Regions from separate parts of the Homo sapiens genome. Here regions 1 and 2 are each linked to region 3. Evidence: fine-mapped expression QTL. A gene starts in region 3. Each other region holds a variant in brackets. All regions are shown on one strand. Distances are from middle to middle.

Region 1 (2,764 bases), 83 kb before region 3:
ATGGTAATTATATTTTTAATTTTTTGAGGAGCCTCCATACTGTTTTCCATAATAGCTGTACTAATTGACTTTACTACTAACAATATATAAGAGTTCTCCTTTCTCTGCATCCTCAGGGATGCAGAGAAATTTTTAATATTTTTCATAGTGTCCATTCTAACTGGGATGAAAGGATATCTCATTGTGATTTTTAATTTGCATTTCCCTGATGATTAGTGATGTTGAGCATTTTTTCACATACCTGTTTGCCATTTGTATGTGTTCTTTTGAGAGATGTCTGTTCAGCTCATTTGTCCGGCTGTTGAGTTATTTGAGTTCCTTGTGTATTCTGGATATTAGTCCCTTCTTGAATGAATAGTTAGCACGTATTTTCTCCCATTCTTTAGTTGTCTCTTCACTCTGTTGATTGTTTCCTCTGCTGTGCAGAAAGTTTTAAATTTAATATAATCCCATTTGTCTACTTTTGCTTTTGTTGCCTATACTTTTGAGGTCATGTTCATAGGATCTTTGCCCAGAACCGTGTCCTAAAGTATTTCACCTATGTTTTTATTTTATTACTTTATTTATTTATTTTTGAGACAGAGTCTCACTCTGTTGCCCAGGCTGGAGTGCAGTAGTACGATCTCGGCTCACTGCAACCTCCGCCTCCCGGGTTCAAGTGATCCTCCTGCCCCAACCTCCCAAGTAGTTGTGACTACAGGCGCGCACCACCACACCCAGCTAATTTTTGTATTTTTAGTAGAGATGGGGTTTCGTGATGTCGGTCAGGCTGGTCTTGAACTCCTGACTTCAAGTGATCCTCCCACCTCGGCCTCCCAAAGTGCTGGGATTAGAGTCATGAACCACCGCCCTCGGCCTCCCCTATGTTTTTAGTTGTTTCATAGTTTAAGGTCTTACATATTAGTCTTTAATCCATTTTGAGTTGATTTTTGTATATGGTAAGAAATAGATGTCTAGTTTCATTTTTCTGCATTTAAATATCTAGTTTGATCAGCACCATTTTTTGATTTTTCAAATTTAAATTTTATTTTAGAGATGAGGTCTTACTCTATTGCCTAGGCTTGTCTCAGAATTCCTGGGCTTAAACAATCCTACCACTTCAGCCTCCCAAAGCTAGCACCATTTATTGAAAAGACTGTCCCTCCACCAAGGAATGTTCTTGGTGCTGTTGTCAAAAATCAGTTGGCTATAAATACGTGGATTTTTTCCTGGGTTCTCTATCCTATTCCATTTGTCTGTGTGTCTGTTTTTATGCCAGTACCATGCTGTTATGGTTACTATAGCTTTGTAATGTATTTTGAAGGCTGGTAATTTGATGCCTTCAGCTTTGTTCTCTTTGCATAGGATTGGTTTGGCTATATGGGGTCTTTTGTGGTTCCATGTGAATTTT[A/G]GGTTTTTTTTCTTGAGACAGAGTCTCACTCTTGTTGCCCAGGCTGGAGTGCAGTGGTGCGATCTTGGCTTACTGCAACCTCCGCCCCCCGGGTTCAAGTGATTCTCCTGCCTCAGCCTCTGGAGTAGCTGGGATTACAGGCATCTGCCACCACCCCTAGATAATTTTTGTATTTTTAATAGAGATGGAGTTTCACCATTTTGGCCAGGCTGGTCTCGAACTCCTGACCTCAGGTGATCTACCTGCCTCGGCCTCTGAAAGTGCTGGGATTACAGGCGTGAGCTACTGCGCCTGTCCTGCTTATACATTATTTATGGCTGTTGTATTCTTACTAATTTTTCTTTCCATTTGTTCCATCAATTAGAGAGAGAGGTAGTGAAATCTCAGACTGTAATTATGGATTTGTCTCTTTATCTTTATAATTTTTGCTTCATATAGTTTGAAGCTACTATTAGATGCATAAATGTTTAGGATTGTTATGTCACGTTGATGAATTGGCCACTTTAATTTAATTTAAATTTAATTTAATTTAAATTTAATTTTTTTTTTTTTTTTGGCTGGACGTGATACCTCATGCCTGTAATCCCAGCACTTTGGGAGGCTGAGGTGGGCGGATCACAAGGTCAGGAGTTCGAGACCAGCCTGGCCAATATGGTGAAACCCTGTCTCTACTGAAAAATACAAAAATTAGCCGGGTGTGGTGGTGCGCACCTGTAGTCCCAGCTACTCGGGAGGCTGAGGTAGGAGAATCGCTGAAACCTGGGAGGCGGAGGCTGCAGTGAGCCAAGATCATGCCACTGTACTCCAGCCTGGGCGATAGAGCAAGACTCCATCTCAAAAACAAAAAATTATATACATATATATACACACACACATACACACATATATATACACACAAGCATATATATATGTACATACATCTAATATACATGTATGTGTGTATATATGTACATATACATGTATGTGTACATACATGTACACATACATGTATATGTATATATTTTTGAGACAGGGTCTCACTCTGTCACCCAGGCTGGACTGCAGTGGAGCAATCACGCCTCACTGCAGCCTCTACCTCCTGGGCACAGGTGATCCTCTTACCTCAGCCTCTTGAGTAGCTGGGACCACAGATGCCACTACCATGCCTAGCTAGTTTTTGTATTTTTTGTAGAGACAGAATTTTGCCATGTTGCCTAGGCTGGTTTTGAACTCCTGGGCTCAAGTGCTCCACCCACCTCAGCCTTCCAAAGTTCTGGGATTACAGGTTGAGCCACTGTGCCTGGCCCCACTTTAACAGTTTGAAATGATCTTCTTTATCCCCATTGAAATTCTGTGCTCTGAAACCTACTTTGCCTGATATTAATATAGCCACTC
Region 2 (2,764 bases), 94 kb before region 3:
TTGTGTTTTTAGTAGAGACAGGGTTTCACCATGTTGGCCAGGATGGTCTCGATTTCTTTTTTTTTTTTGAGACGGAGTTTCGCTCTTGTTGCCCCGGCTGGAGTGCGATGGTGCGATCTTGGCTCACTGCAACCTCCACCCCCCAGGTTCAAGCAATTCTCCTGCCTCAGTCTCCCAAGTAGCTGGGATTACAGGCATGCACCACCACACCTGGCTAATTTTATATTTTTAGTAGAGACAGGGTTTCTCCATTTTGAGGCTGGTCTCGAACTCCTGACCTCAGGCGATCCGCCCGCCTTGGCCTCCCAAAGTGCTGGGATTACAGGTGTGAGCCACCGTGCCCGGCTATTTATTTATTTATTTATTTATTTATTTATTTATTTATTTATGAGACGGAGTCTCACACTGGAGTGCAGTGGCATGATCTCGGCTCACTGCAACCTCTGCCTCCTGCATTCAAGCGATTCTCCTGCCTCAGCCTCCCGAGTAGCTGGGATTACAGGCATGTGCCACCAAACTCAGCTAATTTTTGTATTTTTAGTAGAAAGATGGGGTTTCACCATGTTGGCCAGGTTGGTAGTTCTATATAGAAATATTAGAAAGAGAATATGTAACATTTGGGTAAGTTAATAGTCAATTTATAGGCCACGTAAATGGGAAGGATTATTTCCTTAAATCAAGAGATTAGACAATCATTGCTTGTCATGAATATTTAATAAAAATTTGAGAAAGCTCAGTTTCTTTTGGGCTGCAAACATAGATCTAGGGAAATAAATACTGCTTAACTATTTTGTTGTTGTTGTTGTTGTTGTCTTTTAAGAGACAGAGTCTCACTCTGTTGCCCACGTTAGAGTGCAGTGGTGCAATCGTGGGTCACTGTGGCCTCAAACTCCTGGACTCAAATGATCCTCCCACCTCAGCCTCCTGATTAGCTGGGACTACAGGCACACACCACCATGCCCAGCTACTTAGGAGGGGTTGAGGAGGGAGGATCCTTTGGGCCCAGGAGTTCGAGTCTAGCCTGAGCAACAGGCTAGATTCTTTAAAAAACAGAGATGAAAAAGAAAGAAAAAAAGGATGTGAAGGGTTAAATTTGAACACTTTCCAGGTAGTTTTCAGCATCATGCTTTGGTGGAATCATGGTTTTGAGGCTAAGTGGGGTTGCTGCATGTTACATTCCTGCCTCTTCCTTCCCCCAGCTTTAGTCGTCTTCATTACATTCATGCCTGGGAAGC[C/G]TTCCCAGTGACCTGAGTTAGGCATTAAGATCATGGGAATCCAAGATTTTCCCATGTCTTCTAGCATATTTGTTCACAAGAAAAGGAAAATTTCCTCCTTGCAGCAAGGGGTTTTTAACCACTGTCAGTACCATGGAATCTTTCACTAAAAATCCTTTGAATAGAAATGTGGTCAAGGAGAGGAAAGGTATCAGCAGTGATAATACCTTACAATAGTGTATTTCATAGCACTTGAAGTAGCTTCTTATTTGATTATGGTAAGAAGGTAGGCAGAGAATTAGTGACTTGCCTATTGTCATATACATGTGGTAAATGCCAGAGAGGGCATTCTGGACTTCTGTTAGTTGGAATTGCTTTTGACTACAGGTGACAGAAAATGTGGCTATAATGGTTTATACAATAATTATTATTATTTTCTGAGATGAAGTCTCACTCTTGTCACCCAGGCTGGAGTGCAATGGCGCAATCTCAGCTCACTGCAACCTTCGCCTCCTGGGTTCAAGTGATTCTCCTGCCTCAGCCTCCCGAGTAGCTGGGATTACAGGCACCTGCCACCACACCTGGCTAATTTTTATATTTTTATTAGAGACAGGGTTTCACCATGTTGGTGAGGCTGGTCTCGAACTCCTGACCTCAGGTGATCCGCCTGCCTTGGCCTTCCAAAGTGTTGGGATTACAGGTGTGAGCTACCGTGCCTGGCCTATTTTTTTTTAGTATAAGAAGTCTTTTTAGCAGGTCATGGAAAATTGTAAAAAACACCAGAAGTCTAGAGGTATATAGTAGCTGATATTTGATCTTTAATAGTCATTAGCTCATTGATGTTAAGCCCTATGTTTATTGTTCTCTTGGCCATCTACTCATGTATACCAGATGACTGCCATAGCTCCAGCTTGCCTTCAAGGCAAGAAGAAGGATAAAGGGAAAGGGCAGGAATAAGGGCTATAGCTGTTTTCAGGAAAGAAAATTTTTTCCTAGGAATCCCTCAGCAGATTCTTACTTAGTTCTCATTGGCCAGAACTGTCCCATGGCTACCCCAAGCTTGGAAAGTGGCTATCAGGAGGTAACTTCCATTTTAATGTACTTGCTACTGTTTTGGTCATGGTCAATGAAAAATATTTAATCGTACCTTGACTTCAGCCATGTTAATTTCTAATTCTCTATACTTAGAGTTCATACTGTATAATTTAAACAAACTGTCTTATTTATTGTGTATGATAGGACCTTAGCGTCTATGTAGATGTTAAGTTCCTTTGTGTTCAGGACTACATCTACTTTTTTTTCTTTTTTTTTGAGACGGAGTCTCGCACTGTTGCCCAGGCTGGATGCGGTGGCGTGATCTCGGCTCACTGCAAGCTCTGCCTCCCGGGTTCACACCATTCTCCTGCCTTAGCCTCCTGAGTAGCTAGGACTATAGGTGACCGCCACCATGCCTGGCTAATTCTTTTTGTATTTTTAGTAGAGACGGGGTTTCACCATGTTAGCCAGGATGGTCTCAATCTCCTCACCCTGTGATCCACCTGTCTCGGCCT
Region 3 (2,764 bases):
TTTGTCCGGAGGCCCCAGGGGCCTGGCTGAGCACCGCTTCAATCCTGGCTTTCTGTGTGGTTGTCCTTGGCTCACCAGGGCTGGGTCCTTCGAGAGTTCTTCAGGTCCTAGAGCCAGGCTCAGCCCGGAGGGTGAGGGACCTGCAGGGACTGCCCGAGGTGAGGCTGCCTTTACTCAAAGAAGAACATTCCTGGCGTCCGGTATAGGCAGGGGGTCAGCCCCAATGGGTAGCCGGAGCCTCCCTGGACAGGGAAGCCACCTGCAACCCAGGGTTCCTTGTGGTCAGTTGGCAGGGGCAGTGGGGCCCGGAGTGAGCCTGGAGGGGTGGGTGGTGCAGGGGAGGGGGCTGCTGAGGCCAAGAGGTGCTCAAGGCCTGGGTCAGCCCCCATGCAAAAATTCAGTGCCTGCAGCCGACACTGGTAGCTGCTCCCGATGCCTGATTCCGGGGACAAGACGGGCGTAGGGGCCTTATTAAAACTCTCAGCCTCTGAGAAGCCGGCAGGAAAGCCAAACGCTGGGCATGAGGAAGATGAGGTGGCCACGGGGAGCTCCCCTGGGCATGCAGGCTTGGGCGTGGAAATCTCTTTGGGCTCCATGGGTGGCCGAGGCCTGCCATCAGTGGTTGCTGGGCACATACTGGCTGGCATGGCCCCCACCAGACCCCCAAAGCTTAGGCCCTTGGGATCTGGCAGCTCTGGTGGGAATGAGCACTGCCTGCCGGTCGTGGCGTTGGGGACTCCTGGGTCCTGGCTGGTCGCCCTGAGGGGTCCACGGCGTGCCTTGGCGGGGCCCCGGGTGCCCTCAGCACCTGTCTGCCGGGTGAAGCGGCGGCGGCGGCGTAGGAAGCTGCCGTGCTCAAACATGTCGTGGCAGTCAGGGTCCAGCGTCCAGTAGCTGCCCTTGCCTGGCTTGCGGTCATCGCGGGGCACCTTGACAAAGCACTCGTTGAGTGACAGGTTGTGGCGGATGCTGTTCTGCCAGCCGGGCCGGTTGTGGCGGTAGAAGGCGAATCGGCCCATGATGTAGCGGTAGATGCCACTGAGGGTGGCCCGCTGCCCCGGTGAGCTCTGGATGGCCATAGCAATAAGGGCGATGTAGCTGTAGGGAGGCTTGGTTGGCTCAGTTGTGGGGGCGCCAGGCCCGGGCAGAGGCTGCTGCTGCATGCTGGCCGGGCTGCCAGGCTGCTGGGACCTGCTGGGTCAGGCTCAGCTTCCAGGGCTGGCGTCCGGAATAGCCTGCCCAGGCTGGTTAAAAGGTCCACTGGCCCAGCCTCCCAGCCTGGAAAGGCAAAAAGGGGTGGGTCTGCTGAGCCATCCTCCCCTCCTCCCTCGCCCCACTCCCACAAGGCCCAAAAGAGGCGGGCAGGAGAGGCCAGTAGTGGGAAGCCGAGCAGCTGCCAGGGATGAGGAGTTGGGAAGGAAGGGACTGAGACCCTCAGCCCACGTGTGCTGGGTGGTGGTGGCTGGGGAGGGACAGGATGTGAAACTGAGCGGGACAGAGACAAAAACAAAATGAGACAGAGGCAGAAACATATGAAACAGAGACAGGGAAAAAAGAGATAGAGACAGAGAGAGGTAGAGACATCACAAGAGGGAGAAAGAGGGAGAGACAAAGATAAGACAGAGGCAGACACAACGGACAGAGACACCCAGAGCCTCTCAGACACTCACAGAGAGACACACAGACATACACGTACAGACACACAGAGACACACAGACATACACGTACAGACACACAGAGACACACAGACACAGACACACACACAGACACACACACACAGACATAAGCACACACACACATATACACAGAGACAGACACACACAGACACATAGGCATACACACAGACACACACACAAGCACATACACAGACACACAGAGACATACACACACAGAAACACAGAGACACAGACACAGACACACACACACACACACACACACACACACGTAGTATACGGAGAAAGTGAGAATCACTGAGCAGGCAGAAACAAGGAAATCCACAAAGCCAGAGAGAAAGGAGATACTGAGAGACACAGGTGCAAACACAAGGAGTGAAAGGAATGAATAGAGAGAGAGAGAGAGAGAGAGAGAGAGAGAGAGGAGAGAGAGGCAGGGCCTGAGCCCAGTCCCCCTAGAGTGAGAGAAGCCCCAGGGGCTTCTCTAATCCCTACCTCTACTCCTGCTTTTCCCTCTTCTCCCAGGCCTGTGGTCTACTGCCTTCTCCTGCGGTGCAGAGGCCTTGGGGCCACACCACTCCTACCCCATCCTCCTAGCTCTGGGGTGTCTGCAGGGAGGGGCACCTAGGATGGTAAGGAGAGCCCATGAAATTCAGTTCTGCTGCATCCCTGTCGCCCCCTAGTGACTGGTGTGGGAAGGACAGCTATCTGGGGAGAGACATTCTCCCTCCCAAGAGGCACCTCAAGACCTTGGCTGAGCCTCAGTTTCCCCATCTCTAACATGGAGCTGGTGACTCCTCAGCTGTCCAGGCCATGGTGGGGAGGCAACAGGTTCCCCTTACACAGAATGCAGCACCCTCATCAAGAGCCTAGTATGGAGTAGGGATATGAACATGGCTGCGGATTGTCACTCTGAACTGAGGCTACCCCAGCTGCAGCCTGGGGTCGGGAGGTCCAGAGAGTCAGGCCCAGAACAGTCAGGCCTTCTGGAGGAGGGGACGGCATCCTCTCTGCTCTCCCACTCCCAAGTCACTGCTCACCCACTCTGTACCAGGCCAGCTCACCTCCCCAACCCTACACTTACTTCTTCA

Alleles and levels. Alleles are on the strand shown, and positions count from the first base shown. SD is a standard deviation of normalised expression in the study named.
With allele G in place of A in region 1, the expression in nucleus accumbens of the gene that starts at base 1,225 in region 3 is higher (small effect, 0.35 SD a copy in GTEx).
As copies of G replace C in region 2, the expression in subcutaneous fat of the gene that starts at base 1,225 in region 3 goes up (small effect, 0.17 SD a copy in GTEx).

The links. PIP is the estimated chance that this variant, and not a neighbour inherited with it, causes the effect.
Region 1: its variant is fine-mapped to the expression of FOXS1 in nucleus accumbens (GTEx, PIP 0.95).
Region 2: its variant is fine-mapped to the expression of FOXS1 in subcutaneous fat (GTEx, PIP above 0.99).

The regions. Positions count from the first base shown.
Region 1 is chr20:31,761,793-31,764,556 of GRCh38, forward strand. All of the region lies in intron 4 of TPX2 (TPX2 microtubule nucleation factor), which reads left to right. Among named protein-coding and RNA genes, the nearest start is that of TPX2, 24 kb to the left of the region's middle. The variant A/G (reference allele first, on the strand shown) is at 1,391.
Region 2 is chr20:31,750,107-31,752,870 of GRCh38, forward strand. All of the region lies in intron 2 of TPX2 (TPX2 microtubule nucleation factor), which reads left to right. Among named protein-coding and RNA genes, the nearest start is that of TPX2, 12 kb to the left of the region's middle. The variant C/G (reference allele first, on the strand shown) is at 1,236.
Region 3 is chr20:31,844,380-31,847,143 of GRCh38, forward strand. It overlaps FOXS1 (forkhead box S1), which reads right to left and starts at 1,225. Exons shown (of 1, transcript NM_004118.4): 1 at 1-1,225. The coding sequence starts at 1,163. The coding sequence ends at 171. It also overlaps a transcript of DUSP15 not described here. RefSeq lists an enhancer at 609-1,166.